Regions from separate parts of the Homo sapiens genome. Here region 2 is linked to region 1. The links come from fine-mapping of genetic effects on gene expression. A gene starts in region 1. The other region holds a variant in brackets. All regions are shown on one strand. Distances are from middle to middle. Region 1 holds the start of EIF1AD (eukaryotic translation initiation factor 1A domain containing). Region 2 holds the start of SART1 (spliceosome associated factor 1, recruiter of U4/U6.U5 tri-snRNP).

Evidence for each region.
Region 2: its variant is fine-mapped to the expression of EIF1AD in fibroblasts (GTEx, PIP 0.99).

What each region holds. Positions count from the first base shown.
Region 1 is chr11:65,999,136-66,007,454 of GRCh38, forward strand. EIF1AD (eukaryotic translation initiation factor 1A domain containing) reads right to left here and starts at 3,022. Exons shown (of 6, transcript NM_001242481.2): 1 at 2,775-3,022; 2 at 1,168-1,370; 3 at 918-1,026; 4 at 432-540; 5 at 215-262. The coding sequence starts at 1,254. It overlaps BANF1 (barrier to autointegration nuclear assembly factor 1), which reads left to right and starts at 3,368. Exons shown (of 3, transcript NM_003860.4): 1 at 3,368-3,435; 2 at 4,100-4,238; 3 at 4,491-5,014. The coding sequence starts at 4,116. The coding sequence ends at 4,637. RefSeq lists enhancers at 1,119-1,618, 2,720-3,089, 4,097-4,903 and silencers at 3,390-3,729, 8,223-8,319.
Region 2 is chr11:65,956,265-65,964,583 of GRCh38, forward strand. TSGA10IP (testis specific 10 interacting protein) reads left to right here. Exons shown (of 8, transcript NM_152762.3): 6 at 2,619-2,718; 7 at 2,926-3,050; 8 at 3,553-3,702. The coding sequence ends at 3,676. It overlaps SART1 (spliceosome associated factor 1, recruiter of U4/U6.U5 tri-snRNP), which reads left to right and starts at 5,470. Exons shown (of 20, transcript NM_005146.5): 1 at 5,470-5,829; 2 at 7,810-7,867; 3 at 8,251-8,306. The coding sequence starts at 5,517. RefSeq lists an enhancer at 5,328-6,115. The variant T/C (reference allele first, on the strand shown) is at 4,064.

The DNA.
Region 1 (8,319 bases):
GCTTAAAGTCATTCAGCTTTAAGTGGCAAAGCCAAGATTTTAACCCAGAGCATCTGACCTTCAAACCCCATTCATAACCATGTTATACCACATGCTTAGGAGCTCTCAACAGATACCCTATGTAAGGAGGAAAGAAGGCTCTATTTTTCCCTCAAGGCACCAAAGCATGAACCCCTTATTTTCCATGTACCCCACCCCAAGGCTTGTTCCTCACCTGTTCCTGTTGTTGTGTTTCTCAGCCACTTCAGAGAAGGCCTCAGGCCTATGCCAAGAGATGAGCCAAAGTCAGAAAGGACAAATAAATTTCTCACAAAAGAGCTGCTTCCAGCTGTGTCTGCCTGGGATGCCATGACCTTCCCTCCCCTAATTCCCAAGCTAGGAAGGCAATGCCTCCAGAAGCCAGACAGCCAATGATCAAGGGGACCACCTACCAAAACCCCTCCTTCTGCAGAGAGCGCACGTGGTCCTTGCAGAGCACAAACGAGATTTCAGCCTTCACCTTTTCTCCCTCTTCAATGGGGTCAACAATGAGAAAGTCCCCTGTAGATAAGAAGAGAAAAGGCAAAGTCAGGCCTGCTTGCAATAAGGAAAGCCAAAGCCATAGGAAGGGGTTCTATCTCCTAGAGAGGGCTGCCTCTCTCACCTCTCTCTTTTTTCTTTTTTTTGAGACAGGGTCTTGCTCTGTTGCCCAGGCTGGCAAGCAATAGCATGATCATAGCTGACTGCAGCCTCCACCTCCCAGGCTCAAGTGATTCTCAGGCCTCAGCCTCCTGAGTAGCTGGGATCACAGGCACGTGCCCAACTAATTTTTTTCTTTTTGTAGAGACAAGGTCTCATTATGCTGCCCAGGCTGGTCTCAAGCGATCCTCCCATCTCAGCCTCTCAAAGTGCCAGGATTACAGGAGTAATCCTCTCACCTCTCTTGATCCAGATGTTCTTGCGGTATTTGGAGGGCATGCTCACCAGGAAGCGCTGCCCTTGGGCTGTCTCCACCTCATGCAGATTGTTCCCTGGGGTCCTGAGTACCTGGTTCAGGAGAGACCAAGAATCAGTCTCATCAGTCAGATCAAACACCCTCTCAGACACGCTGCACCCTACCCCCACCCCAGGGGCCCTCCAGGGCTGCAGGGGTGGGGAGCAGAACAGCTTGTGCCCCACGCCACTCACCCTGACAATCTGCTGCTGGTCGGAGGGCACTATGTGCTCCCCTAGCACCTCCTTCACCACATGCTTCCTCTTGGTGGCCTGAGACATGCTGAAGTCGTCCCACACTGGTTAGGAACGAAGAGACTGTCAACTCCTCCTCCTGAGTTCCTTGGATGGCAGGCTCAGAACCCAGGACTGTTCTGAAGATGGGGAGGGGCCTTTTACTGAGGGGTGACACGGTGTCTTGGTTAAGAACATGGGTTCTGAAGTCTAACTGCCTGGATTCAAATCCTACCTTGGTTTATTTCCTAACTATTCAACTTCTCTAGGTCCCAGAAAAATAACAGCTAACTCAGCACTGTTACAGTATGGTATGAGGCCACCACTTCTCCTGTTGGCCTTCTTAGTTTCTCTCCAACCTCCCCTTTTCCCTAGTTTATAAGACAGGAGAAAAGGGAGAAAGCAAAAAGTTGGAAAGAAACAGAAGTAAGATAAATAGCTAGACGACCTTGGCACCACCACCTGGCCCTGGTGGCTAAAATAATAATAATATTATTAACCCCTGACCAAAACTACTGGTGTTATCTGTAAATTCTAGACATTGTATGAGAAAGCACTGTAAAACTTTTTGTTCTGTTAGCTGATGTATGTAGCCCCCAGTCACGTTTCTCACGCTTACTTGATCTATTATGACTTTTTCACGTAGACCCCTTAGAGTTGTAAGCCCTTAAAAGGGCTAGGAATTTCTTTTTCGGGGAGCTCGGCTCTTAAGACACGAGTCTGCCGACGCTCCCGGCCGAATAAAAAAACCTCTTCCTTCTTTAATCTGGTGTCTGAGGAGTTCTGTCTGCGACTCGTCCTGCTACAACAGAATGGGACAATACAATGCATGTCATGTAAAAGTAACTCCGGCCGGGCGCGGTGGCTCACGCCTGTAATCCCAGCACTTTGGGAGGCCGAGGTGGGCGGATCACGATGTCAGGAGATCGAGACCATCCTGGCTAATACGGTGAAACCCTCTCTCTACAAAAATACAAAAAATTAGCCGGGCGTGATGACGAGCGCCTGTAGTCCCAGCTACCCGGGAGGCTGAGGCAGGAGAATGGCGTGAACCCGGGAGGCGGAGCTTGCAGTGAGCCGAGATCGCGCCACTGCACTCCAGCCTGGGCGACAGAGCAAGACTCCGTCTCAAAAAAAAAAAAAAAAAAAAAGTAACTCCTATAATCTTAAGTACTAGTGTAATATAAAACTATACGCATGCTCCAGAGAAGTCATCCTGGCAACCTCTCTGGAAGGAGTTTGAAATAAACCGTATCTTTCTCAACACGCTTGTACACCCCAAGTCTAGCATAGTCACACAACAGAGAAGTTCAGTCTGGCAACACACTACAGCCGGAGACAAACTAGGTGGCCACCGTGATGGTTCAAGCCAGGAACTAGTTAATTAAAGGTTGAGGTGAGCAGGCTTGTCTGCGACATTTGCATATTTCTGACTTGCGTACTTAGAAGACGAAGGCCAGTACCCTTAAGACTGATGGTTTCCGAAAGAAACACTGTCGTCTCTAGTTGCTGTCCTCCTTCCTCCTCCCTGTCTATCCCGGAGAAAAGACCCTCAGAGAAACACCCACACTTAGTCTCTGGCCCTCGGCTCCCAGGAACGCTGCCGGAGCAACACCGCCGTCTAGGCTGGACGCTGAGAGAGGATCGTCCACGACTCACTTCAAGGCTGAACCAAGAAAACACAGTAAAGGAACTTGCCGGCGGCCGCGACGGTAGCGTCAGTTAGAAATCAGGTCTCCAGTGTTCCCAGTTCCCACCAGTCCAACTGCGAGGAGTGCGACGTGAGTCTGAGTCTGATCCCTCCGAAAACCGTACTTCCGGCGCTGTCTCGGAGGCCTCCCGTCCCCTCCCTTGTCCGTCTTCTAACTCTTCCCCACGCCAGGTCCGTCAAGCCTAAGTCCTTGAGTTCCGGGTCCGGGCAGCAGAGAAAGGAAGTCCTCTCCCTGGAGGCCTATCTCCCTCAGAACTGCGCGAGAAGCGAGACCTTAGAAGGCAGGGCTTCCCGCGAAGGACCGGAAAGGAGCGCCTACTAAGGACGCCGTCGAGGTCCGGGGCGCCTCAACTCTATAGCTCTAACTGGCTAGAAGTGCCCAACGTGGAATGTTTCTTTTTTAAAGGCGGCTCTTGAAGCGACCCGGAAGCGGAAGTGGAAGAAAGTTCTAGTGGCTTGAGGTATCCGCAGGAGCGGCCGGGTGGCGGGAGGAACCGTTACGGGAACTGAAGTTGCGGGTGAGCGCCAGCCGCGGAGCAGGGCCCTGATTGGAGGCCAGAGGGGTTGCGGGGAGAAGGGGAGGAGAGGGGTCGCAGGCGCTGTGGCGGGCCCTGGGGGAGAGCTTGGCCGCGCTGCGGGGAGGGGGCGGGGTGCAGCGCGTGGGAGCCGGGCCGCGGGAAGGGGCGGGCCGCAGCGGCGCGCGGTGGGGGCGGAGCTGGGGCGCGGCGTGAACCCCGCGGGCGGGGAGCGGGTGTGCGCAGCGCTAGGTGTGCGCTTCGCCCTGTAGGTAGAGAGACCCTTTGGTTAGCTTTCCACGCCAAGTGGCCGTTCCAGGCAGGCAGTGTCGTCTTGGTTCAGCCAAGGTCACAGAGGGAGTGATAGCTTCCGCGCAGCCCTGGCTACGGACTCTGGGCATCTTTCCACTGCCCCGCTTGCGCCACCTGTTAGGCAGGATCGTTTTTCCTCTGGGGCAAGATCAAAATCCAGGTCCTGCAGGAAGAAACTCCTCTTAAAAATAGTAGGGAAGAGTCTCCCTGGAACTGTTTTCTCCTTTCAGGATGAGGGGGATCGAGCAAGCCACTGTAACCCCTGGCTTGGCTTCCTCTTACTATGAGATTGCTCGTGGGCCCTTAGAAGTTCCAGGTCTTCAGCCCTAATCTGCCTTTTTTTTGGGATTCCTAGATTAAGCCTGATCAAGATGACAACCTCCCAAAAGCACCGAGACTTCGTGGCAGAGCCCATGGGGGAGAAGCCAGTGGGGAGCCTGGCTGGGATTGGTGAAGTCCTGGGCAAGAAGCTGGAGGAAAGGGGTTTTGACAAGGTGTGGGGTGGCTGCGTGTACCTAGTGCAAGCGGGGGGTGGAAGGGAAGTGATTCCATCTGCTGGGGGATGGACAGTAAGGTATAATCTGAAGAGGCTGCCAGAGCCTGGGCACCTGGTGGAGAGGAGAGGGGGGCAAAACCCGCGCTGCTTCCTGGGCTTGTGTGCTCTGAATGGCACAGGAATGGCTGTCTTGCTCTTATCTCTCACTGAGCACTGAGCAGCACGCTCCTTCCTTTTCCCTGTTTTGCAGGCCTATGTTGTCCTTGGCCAGTTTCTGGTGCTAAAGAAAGATGAAGACCTCTTCCGGGAATGGCTGAAAGACACTTGTGGCGCCAACGCCAAGCAGTCCCGGGACTGCTTCGGATGCCTTCGAGAGTGGTGCGACGCCTTCTTGTGATGCTCTCTGGGAAGCTCTCAATCCCCAGCCCTCATCCAGAGTTTGCAGCCGAGTAGGGACTCCTCCCCTGTCCTCTACGAAGGAAAAGATTGCTATTGTCGTACTCACCTCCGACGTACTCCGGGGTCTTTTGGGAGTTTTCTCCCCTAACCATTTCAACTTTTTTTTGGATTCTCGCTCTTGCATGCCTCCCCCGTCCTTTTTCCCTTGCCAGTTCCCTGGTGACAGTTACCAGCTTTCCTGAATGGATTCCCGGCCCCATCCCTCACCCCCACCCTCACTTTCAATCCGTTTGATACCATTTGGCTCCTTTTTTGGCAGAACAGTCACTGTCCTTGTAAAGTTTTTTAGATCAATAAAGTCAGTGGCTTTCATGACTGGGCTTTGTGCACTGAAAAGCAAGTGGGCTGGGAGTTGCCTCTCCTTCAGGGACTGACCATGTTTCCCTCACTCCTTATCAGTAGAGACCGAAACTGGCAGCTTCCCTTCCACTCCCAGAGGGCAGCCACCCTAGCCATGTAGGCCTCAGGCAGGTGACTTTTGTCTCAATCCCCGAGTGATGTGGGAGAGGGTGTGGGTGGATCTTTTCCTGGGAGCCAGATGGACTGTGCTCCAGATGTCAGTTAAGTCAACAGCTGGGCTAGGCAGCACCTGGTGGAAAAGTCAGTGGGAGTCAGAGGTACCAGACAGGGTGGGCCGGATGTGGGTGAGAGTTCACCTGCCAGTCATCATCTGCTCTCCCGGCCTCTGTAAGGGTGGGCAGGGTGCTTGCCATCTTCCATGATCTCTTAGGGAGGAGAAGGAGCACAGGCATCACAGCTGGAAGGATGTGAGGGGAGTACACCTCAGTACATTTTAGTCCTGTTCTTTTTGTTTACTTTTTAACTTAATAGGGACAGGGCCCTGCTCTGTTGCCCATGCTGGCCTTAAGCGATCCTTAAGCCTCCCAAAGCGCTGTGACTATAGGTGTGAGCCACCATACCCGGCCAGCCCTATTATTTCTTGAACACTTAGTATGAACCAGGCTTGAAGCTAAAATCTTTGCAAACATTTTTTTCTTTCACAGTAATAAATATTTTCTCCTTTACAGGTGAGGAAATTTGAGGCTCAGAGAGGCTAATTTGCCCATGGACTTGCTCCTGGGAAGTAGCCAGACTGGAACTCAAACTAGCTTGGAAACCCAGGGACCCGGCCATGTGTTCCTTGGTCATGTGGCTTAGCCTCTCTGAGCCTCAGTTTCTCCACTTGGAAAATGAGGTGGTTGTAGGGAAAGGATATTTGCAGCAGTATAAACAACAAAGGACTATTTCCATAGCACATACAGAATTGCAATCAAGAAAAAAGCGGACTGGCTGGGCGCAATGGCTCACGTTTGTAATCCCAGCACTTTCAGAGGCCGAGGTGGGTGGATCACCTGAGGTCAGGAGTTCAAGACCAGCCTGGCCAACATGGTGAGACCCCATCTCTACCAAAAATACAAAAATTAGCCGGGTGTGGTGGTGCACGCCTATAATCCCAGCTACTCAGGAGACTAAGGCAGGAGAATCGAACTTGGGAGGCAGAGGTTGCAGTGAGCCGAGATCACGGCCATTGCACTCCAGCCAGGGTGACCAGAATGAAACTTTGTCTCAAAAAAAAAAAAAAACAACAGAAAAATGGGTAAAAGATCTAAGACGGCCACAGAAGAGGGTTCCCTCCCAGTAAATAAGCACAGGAAAGGTGCTCCATATTGCTAGTAATAAGACATCACATGCCATTAACACCCACCTGACTGGCAAACACTTTTAAGTTGGACAATACCAAGTATTGATGAGATAATGAAGCAACAGGAACTGATACCTAGCTGGTGGGAGTATAAATTGGTCTAAACAATTTGGGAAGACAGTTGGGTGTTATTTAGTAAAACTGACACGCCCTGTGACCAAGCAGTTCCACTCTCAGGACTGTGCCTTGAAGAAAGTCCCGAACACCTGCAGCAGGACCTAGATGAGTTTGCAGCTGCATTGTTGGGAGCAACGCTAGCGGCTGTCAATACTAGAGTAGATAAATAGGCACTCATGCCACCGGACACTGGACGGAGGTAAAAATGAACAAATGATAGTTGTGTACAACACGAATCTCAATAGCAAATGAAGACAAACAAATTCTTAGGAATTCCTACATAGATGGTAAAACTAGAAGGAAAACAAAGGAAATGATTATGGTAAATAGTAAAGGAAAAAGTCTACAGGGATTATCTTTGGGGGAGGGTGTGGAAGGGCTTAAGGGTAGGCTTGGCCTACCCTGACCTGTGTTTCTGACCTATGGGGTGGTGGTACAGGCATTGACCAAAAGTGTATGTTCTGCGCCCTTTTCAGTGTATTCGCTACATCTCAACAATAGAAAGATAACAGGAAAACCAAAAATAAAGACCTGAGGCTGGAACGATTGAGTGAAAGGTCAGAAACTAAATTGTTATTTGTAGGGATGAGAGTTCTGTGCAAGGCTGGGACTGGAAAGTGCGAGTGGCCCAGCTTGAAAGGGACACCAGGTGACTGCAGCAGGGCCCAGCTTGTGCTTCAAGCCGCTTCCTGGGAGGCTGCTGGTCTGAGTCCCGGCTGAGGTGGTCACGAGGGCTCTCTCTTGAGTTTCAGACTGTTTCTGATGTCTTCCCGGCTAAGTCCCCTCAGCCTTGACCCTCATGCTATGATGCTGTCGCAGGCCTTGTGTGCTTAGGTGGGGGCTTTGCAGGGCTCCGGCCTCACCACACCTCAGTCCTGATGCTGCCAGCTTGTTGCTGGTGCTCTGTGAGGTCATGGAGACTCCTCCTCCATGAAGCCCTTCCCTGGGCTCCTGCCCACGCTGGCCTCCTGGTTTGGCCTCGCCTGGTGGCACTGGGACCCTGCTGGAAGCCTGCGGCTCATGCTGTCTGCTTTATTTCCTTGTTGTCTGCCTTTCCCGGCTCACCCACAGGCTTTGCCATAGAAGGGACTGGAACCTGCCTTCTCACCTCTCCCTTGGGGCACAGGCAGTGCATATACCAGGTGGCAGGCCACAAACCCTTTATCAGGACTCCATATTGCATCCCACACAAGTTCTTGGCTCTGTCCTGGGACAGCAGTAGACAAAGGGCATCTAGAATGTACCTTGTGACAGTGTGGCCTCTCAGATCCAGCCCGACTCAGCCAGCAGGACAAAGGGACCACGGCTTGGAATGCTGGCGCAGAAAGCAGACCTGGCTGGTGAGGGGTATGAGTCAGGTTGTCTCAGTGTCAGCCCGTGGTGTCCAAGAGGACATGCCTGGCCACCCACTAGCCTGGGACATAGGTGGGCCCAGAAATCAGCAAATACTGACCCCATCCCCCCATCACACCCAGCCAGAGCTTGACCCCCTCAGCTGGTCTAGTCATGAGTGCTCAGAGCCAGCCTAGAACTTCGTGTGAACCCAGCCCATGCACTCTGGGGTGCTGAAGGGCTCCTGCTGCCCCCAGAAAGGAAGTAGGGGGAGGCTACCTGGACCACCACAAGCCCTGCCCCCGGCAGCCTGCTGAGCATGGAAGGCTCCCAGCAGGTGCTTGTGACTGTTGATCCCTTTCCAGGCTGGCCCCTCCCTGTGGGGACCAGGGCTCTTTCCTGTCACTCCCAACCTTGACTGGTGGCAGCCTTGAAGAGCCAGCCAGGCCCGATTCTGGGGCTTTGCTCC
Region 2 (8,319 bases), 43 kb before region 1:
GTAGCTGGGATTACAGGCATGCGCCTCCACGCCCGGCTAATTTTGTATTTTTAGTACAGACAGGGTTTCTCCATGTTGGTCAGGCTGGTCTTGAACTCCCGACCTCAGCTGATCCGCCCGCCTCAGCCTCCCAAAGTGCTAGGATTACAGGCGTGAGCCACCGCGCCCGGCCGAGGCTCAGTCTTAATCACCCCAATTTTACAGATTTGGAAACAGAGGCTCTGAAAGGTCAAGTGTGTTTTGGGGGACTGCTTGGGCCAATGTTTAGGGGGATCCTTTCTCCTTCCCAATCTTGCTCTGTTGCCCAGGCTGGAGTGCAGTGGTGTGATCTCAGTTCACTGAAACCTCCATCTCCCGGGCTCAAGCAATTCTCCTGCCTCAGCAACCTGAGTAGCTGGGACCACAGGTGCGCGCCACCACACCTGGCTAATTTTTTTGTATTTTTGGTAGAGACAGGGTTTCACCATATTGCCCCAGCTGTCTCAGACTCCTGACCTCAAGTGATCTGGCTGCCTCGGCCTCCCAGAGTTTTGGGATTACAGGCGTGAGCCACCGCGCCCAGCCAAGTGTTTTGTTTTCACAGTGAGGCAGGAAGTGTAAGGTTCAGAACTCCAAGTGGCAGGTGCAGCAAAAAGAGTGATTCAACCTCACTCCTTTTACTTTCTATTTGAGAGGGCTAAGGCATAAGTAGGTATCTCCCATGCAGTCTCTCAGCCATTACAGCCTATGAACTTCGCTGTCTGAGCGGAACAGGAGACTCTGTCCTGCCTAGGAAGGGCAGGCACAAAAGAGGTTGTCCTGTGGGAGGGAGGGATGTGTCTCCTTCCATTCTGAGATGATGGACGGGGCTGACACCCATAGGCACCACTTCCCTTTCTGCTCAGGGCTCCTGTCATTGTTTTTTTGAGACAAAGTCTCGCTCTGTCGCCAGGCTGGAGTACAGTGGTGCAATCTCGCCTCACCATAACCTCCAACTCCCCAGTTCAGACGATTCTCCTGCCTCAGCCTCCCAAGTAGCTGGGATTACAGGCGCACGCCACCACTCCCAGCTAACTTTTGTATTTTTAGTAGAGACAGGGTTTCACCATGTTGGCCAGGATGGTCTCGATCTCCTGACCTCGAGATCTGCCCGCCTCGGCCAGCTCCTGTCACTTCTAACAGAAATAGCATAAAGTATCCAGCAGGAAAAGTGCACACAATATCACAGAAAAGATAGGGACTGCCAGCTCATTTCCCACCTCCCCTTGTAACTGCCATAAATTCCTTCCTAAATGGTGAAAGCCGTTTTTGCAGTAACTTGTGTTCCGGGCCATGGGTTTTCAAGTCCATGTCTTTTTCTCAATGAAGGATGGTTCCTTCCCTGGCACAGGGCCACAGCAAGGGTGGCATGGCCCAGCAAGGCTGAGTTTTTCCACCGGGCCCAGCACAATCGCTGAGGTCCCAGTACAGGTCTTGGGGTCTTGTCTGTGTCTCCCCTCCCCTCCTGTCCTCTTGTCTGCGTCTTCCCTCCCCTCCTGTCCATGGGTGCTGCCTCCACACCTCAAGGCCTCTCTTACATGCTTCACAGATGGATGCCTGGTCCCATGTGGGTGTGGCTCGAAGGTCCCTCTTGCTGCTAGAGTGCTCTCTTCATGAGTGGCAGTGATACTCAAGTTTGTCAAACAGACACATTTCTGACAAGTGCACAAACTGGGTTTTGGGTTTTTTGAGACAGGGTCTTGCTCTGTTGCCCAGGCTGGAGTGCAGTGGCACAATCTCAGCTCACTGTAGCCTAGACCTCCGAGGCTCAAGCGATCCTCCCACCTTGGCCTCCCAACTACCCAGGACTACAGGTGCATACCACCATGTCTGGCTAATTTTTGTAGAGACAGGATTTCACCATGTTGCCCAGTCTGGTCTCAAACTCTTGGGCTCAAGTGATCCACCCTCCTTGGCCTTCCAAAGTGCTGGGATTACAGGTGCGAGCCACCACGCCTGGCCAAATTGGGTTTTTATAAATGAAAATTGTGCTTCCCCAGTGGAACCCTGATCTCTCAGGGGTGTGTTTTTTAAATTTGAAACATATTTTTTTTTAGTTTCTCTGTCCCATTTTCCAAGCTGTCTGCTTACAAGAACCACAGAGAATGCTGGCAAGCTTGTCCGATCCCTACTATAGCACAGTGAAATAAACTGAGCCCAGAGCCAAGAGCCCAGAGAGAGGCCTCACCCAAAGTCACACAACCAACAACCACAGCTCCCCCTCAAGGGAAAGAGGATGGGGAGGGGAAGCTATGTAAGCACGTGTCTGGAAGCTCAGAAGCCAGCACTGGCCCCTTTCCCATGGGGCTGGCACAGGAGGATGGGCAAGCCCCAGCTGCACAGGGCTCGGCCCCTCACTTCCCAGCTGCACAACTTTGAACAAGTCCCTCAACCCTCCCGATCCATCCGTAAATTGGGTGAATAATTTCCACCTTGGCTGACTTCACAAGGAATCCAGGCAAGAATGGGAATGAAATAGCTTTGTAAAGGTGAGGGTGAGGACATGAATATCAAGTCCTTAGTGAAGATAAGCGGGCTCAGGAATGGAGATCAACAGTTGTGTCCATGGTTAGCTGCACAAAGGCCTGTCTCCCCTGCAGGCGCCAGGAGCGACAGCGCTTTGCTGAGTACCAGGCGGAGCTGCAAGGCATCCAGCACAGGGTGCAGGCCCGGCCCTTCCTGTTCCAGCAGGCTATGCAGGTGAGGCTGGCACCTGGGCAAGCACATAGCTGCCCCCTGTGAAGAGCTGGCTGAGTGGGTAGGGAAGCAGGATGCGAGTAGGTCCCTGCAGATAGGATCCCAGGGCTGCTGCCCTCTGGAATCCCTGGGACCCCCTCAGTAACCCGATCCCCACCTTGCCCTCGGCAGCCCTGGTGCAGAGCAGGAAGCCGTCTTCTCTCTCCTCAGGCCAATGCCCGGCTCACCGTCACTCGGCGCTTCTCCCAGGTGCTGTCAGCACTGGGGCTGGATGAGGAGCAGCTGCTGTCTGAGGCAGGAAAGGTGGACAGAGAGGGCACCCCCAGGAAACCCAGGTGAGTCTCCCCGTCAGGTCAAGAACTGACTCTGCCATGCTGCTGCGGGAAGGGGCGCCCACACCAGCACTCTGGGCTCTGGAGGGCCTCCCCCAGGACAGGCAGAGAGCCCAGAGGAAGGCAAGGCCAGGGTTGTCATTCCTACTTCTCAATGAGGAAACTAAGGACCTGAGGGGAAGGGCCTTCTTTAAGGACGCAGGAGCGAACAAGCAGCAGAACCAGTCTGGGACTCTGCAACCATCTGAGCGGCCACACACCAAGTCCCTCATTAGGGGCTGGCACCACCACGCTGGTCACCCCATGCCTTAGAATAACCTGGTACAGAGCAGCGATTATGAAGCCCACTTGACAATAAGGAAAGTGAGACTCGAGAAGAGTCACTTTGCCCAGGATCACACAGCAAGCCGGCACTGAAGCAGGGTTTGAAGCCACATTGTCAGTGGTTTCCTTGGGCATGGGGGTGGGAGCTGCAGAGTCAGGGGCCTCTATCTGTGTCTTGAAGGAGCCACAGGTCAATGGGGGTGAGAATGGAGCACTCTCCTCAGAGGCCCCCAAGGACAGAACCCACCGGCAGCCAGCCTGACAGGCACTACAACCCCAGCCTGGACCCGGAGTGCAGTCCCTGAGATAAAATTAAAGGCTTTATGGCAAACACAGTATGAGATTTCTGGTGGTGGGGGTGGTGGAAGCTACGGGTTGGAAGTTGGAGGTGGCAGGTGGGTGGGCAGCAGGCTTAGCTCTGTCCCCGCACCCCCTCCCCACCAGGAGCTTTGGCTCTTTTGGTTCCCCCCACCCAGTACACACAGCCCCTTCTCTGCTCCTGAGGAGTGGGGACATCTCAAAGAGCAAGAGCTGTGACTTCTCCACCCCATCTCCAATGTATATGTTGGGTCCTATAAATTCAAGCATGAATAAGATGAAATGACTCCTGCCTCTGAGGACGCCCAGTGAGTGGGAGAGGGGGTGGATCCTTAAAGGGGCGCATACAACATAGCCTAACACATGCTGAGTTG[T/C]GCCACACAGGGAGCCACAGACTGAGCAACCACTGGGTGAGGGGAGGGGTTTCAGGAGAGATTGGGATTGTGTGCACTGCGCTTTTTTTTTTTTTTTTTAAGACAGAGTCTCGCTCTGTCACCAGGCCGGAGTGCAATGGTGTGATCTCAACTCACTGCAACCTCTGCCTCCCAGGTTCAAGCGATTCTCCTGCCTCAGCCTCCTGAGTAGCTGGGACTACAGGTGTGCGCCACCACACCCAGCTAATTTTTGTATTTTTAGTAGAGACGGGGTTTTACCATGTAGGCCAGGATGGTCTCGATCTCTTGACCTCGTGATTCGCCTGCCTTGGCCTCCCAAAGTGCTGGGATTACAGGCGTGAGCCACCGCGCCCGGCCTGCACTGGGGTTTTAAGTCCCAATAGTTTTAAGTTAGGGCTGGTCTCCTCAAGAAAAAAACTCATACACACAGATGTGCCACATTTTGCATTCAATTTCAGGGGTTCCAGGGATACACTGACGCCCATGTGGAGCTCCTAAACAATCTTAACAGTTCACGGGGCCAGGTTTTAAAAATCCAATCCAGGGCCAGGCGCAGTGGCGCATGCCTGTAATCTCAGCACTTTGGGAGGCCAAGGCGGGTGTATAGCCTGAGCTCAGGAGTTCGAGACCAGCCTGGCCAACATAGTGACCCCACCCCCTACCCCCGCTCCCCACCAACCATCTACAAAAAAATACAAAAATTAAAGGGGCGTGGTAGCGTACTCTCGTAGTCCCAGCTACTGGGAAGGCTGAGGTGGGAGGATCACTTGAGCCCAGGAGGTCGAGGCTGCAGTGCGCTGTGATCACGCCACTGCACTCCAGCCTGAGCAACAGAGTGAGATCCTATCTCAAGGGAAAAAACAAAACAAAACAAAACAGGGAACGTGGGAAGGAAGCGTTCCCTGACGATACTGGTTATAGCGGGTCTGAAGCTGGGCTGTGGAATTGGAGATCTCGGGAAAACAACACCCGTTGGAGCCACGACCCTAGGAGTCCACTAAGCGAGCGCCCATTGTAGGAGGGAGGTGTCTACGGAAAGACCGTGAGGTAGTGAACACCCCGTTGCCGGTGAAGTGCAAGCGCAGGGAGGCCGGGGAGGAACTTAAAGCCACGAAGACACTGACTTAATGGGCTCTAAGTCCTTCCAGTTCTGGGATCCCACCTCCGGGTTAATTCCGCTTCCCTTGAGGAGCGCATGCGCAATGGGACCACTCGCTCAAAGAACCCACCCGACCCGAGACGGCGCGAATGTGCAGTCGAGCGCTGATCCCGGCCTTCCCATGAGCCTCTGGGGCAGGCTCCAAGGCGAGCGACGGAAGCAGCCGCTCTTAGTTTCCGGCAACACGACAGCGGCTGCCGAGCGACCCGGAAGTATTCCCATTTTGCGTTGTCTGGGCTCGGCGGCAGCCGGGCTCGGAGTGGACGTGCCACTATGGGGTCGTCCAAGAAGCATCGCGGAGAGAAGGAGGCGGCCGGGACGACGGCGGCGGCCGGCACCGGGGGTGCCACCGAGCAGCCGCCGCGGCACCGGGAACACAAAAAACACAAGCACCGGAGTGGCGGCAGTGGCGGTAGCGGTGGCGAACGACGGAAGCGGAGCCGGGAACGTGGGGGCGAGCGCGGGAGCGGGCGGCGCGGGGCCGAAGCTGAGGCCCGGAGCAGCACGCACGGGCGGGAGCGCAGCCAGGCAGAGCCCTCCGAGCGGCGCGTGAAGCGGGAGAAGCGCGATGACGGCTACGAGGCCGGTGAGGAGGCGGGGCCTGCGCAGGGGGCGGGTCGGGCGGGGGTCCCGGAACGCGTGGGTCTGGGTGTGCGCGCAGTGTCAGCGAAGCTCTTCAGGCCAGGAAACCCCCAAGCTGTTTACCAGCTCTATTAAATAGTCTTTCTACGGGATCCCTTGAGCCCAGGAGTTAGAGGCTGCAGTGAGCTGCGGTCCCGCCAGTGTACTCCAGCCTGGGCAACAAAGCGAGACTCTGTCTCAAAAAGAAAAAAGTCTTTCTACGGTTGTTTAGGATTAGAGGTTGACTTTCTCCACTCAGCTGCTTGAGGACAGAGGGCTTCTGTTTTCCTCAGTTGTCTGGTACAATCAGATTCTCAATAAATATGTTGAATGAGTGAATGAAGTAGTGTCAGCATATACAGAGGCAAGAAAAACCTGGTATTGGACGAATCGTGTAGGGCGCATGGTAGAGAAATGAGGGAGTAAGATAGACAGGGATGTGAACACAAAGGACCCTGTACTGTAGTCTCTGTTAAGAACTGTAGATTGTCTTGAGGATAGTAGGGAGCCATGGATGTGAGTTGAGGAGTGAGTTGCTCAGATCCGTATTTTGTAAACATCACTGGATTGAGAATTTAGTCAAAGGTAGTCAGGACTGGAGACCAGGAAACCAGGAGGGCTATAGGCCAGGGGAGGGCTGATGGTGGCCTGCACCAAGGCAGCAGCAGTGGGATTGAGAGAAGTGGACAGGTTGGAGAGGTGTTTTGGAGGAGGAATGAACAGAACTCAGCACTTGTATGAGGGTGGGAAGAAGGAATGGAGGATGACTCCTTGAATTTTGGCTTGAGCAGCCAGATAGGTAGTGGGTGTCATTTCTACTGAAATTGAGGAGTAGGGAAGAGAAGCAGATTTGGAGCGGGGGTGGGGGGAGATAGTTCACTTTTGGGGTTGTCAAGGTTGATGGTAATGGGGAAATCCAGAGTTTGGACTGGATAAAGCCATTGGGAGTCAGTATCTGGGTGGCCAGTGAAGCCCCTGAAAGACTGTGACATGAGAAGAGGGGGTCAGGACTAGAACCTGAGAAATGCCCTTATGTTAGTAGTAGGCAGAGAAAGATGTTACCAAAAAAAGGAGACAGAGTAACCAAAAAGGCAGGAAAACCTTTGTGTCATGGGAACTTTGGGAAGAGAGTATTGTTAGAAGGAGGGAGCGATCAGCAGTCCCACATACCACAGGAGATCAAGCAAAACCAGAACCGAAAAGAACCCACTAGATTTAGAAACGAGGAGGCTGGTGACCTTGGGGAGCCTGGAGAGGTTGGGATCCATGGCCCAGGTGGAGAGAGAAGCCTTTAAGATAAAGGAGAAGGTAGGATGCAGGATGGGAATGCAGGAAAGGAAGAGTTTTTTTTTTGTTTTGTTTTGTTTTTTTGAGACAAAGTCTTGCTCCATTGCCCAGGCTAGAGTGCAGTGGCACGATCTCAGCTCACTGCAAGCTCTGCCTCCTGGGTTCAAGCAATTCTCCTACCTCAGCCTCCCGAGTATCTGGGATTACAGGTGCGCACCACCGTGCCTGGCTAATTTTTATATTTTTAGTAGAGACGGGGTTTCACCATCTTGGCCAGGCTGGTCTTGAACTTCTGACCTCGTGATCCATCTGCCTCGGCCTCCCAAAGTGCTGGGATTACAGGCATGACCCACCATACCCGGCCCAGACCTTGTCTGTTAAAAATGAAAGAAAAAAGTAGAGGGCAGAGTGGTGACTACAGCAGTTTGGATGTCTTGGGTCAGGAAAGGAAGGTGCACAGAAGAGGCAGGGCTCTGAGACTGGACTCGGGCAGAGGAGCTGCTGGGGAGCTTGGGTGGAAGAAGCTGCTGTTTTCTGGTGTTTCAGCAGGCCCAGGTGCTGGTGAGGGGCCCTCATTTTTGTTCCTGCAGCTGGAGCCAACGATGCTGGCTTCTTGGCCCTGTGTTCAGCTCCTGAGCCATGCTTCTTCTTGTTCCAGCTGCCAGCTCCAAAACTAGCTCAGGCGATGCCTCCTCACTCAGCATCGAGGAGACTAAGTGAGTACTGTCTCCCTTGTTTCTACTTTGTTTTTCTAAGAGAGGTGGCTCTGGGGCCAGCACGGGGGAGGCTTTCTCACATGAAAGTGTGCTAATCAGAGTTGGAAAGATTGTTTAAATCATCTTAGCCAACAGTTGACTTATAGAAGAGAAAACTAAAACCTAAGAGTAAAGTGGCATTCACTGGTTAGACGCAGACCAGGCTGGTGCCCATGTTTCCTGCTTTGGAGGCCAGGGCCCTTCCCAGTGTCCTAGGCTGCCTGGGGCAGACTTTGTGTTTGGGACCACTCACTCCCACCCTGTTTCTCCTCTTGTCTGTCTGGAAATGCACATGGCACCCTGTGTCTTTAATAGCCCCTAACACTTGTATCTCTTGTTGTCAGCAAACTCCGGGCAAAGTTGGGGCTGAAACCCTTGGAGGTTAATGCCATCAAGAAGGGTGAGTATGGGGC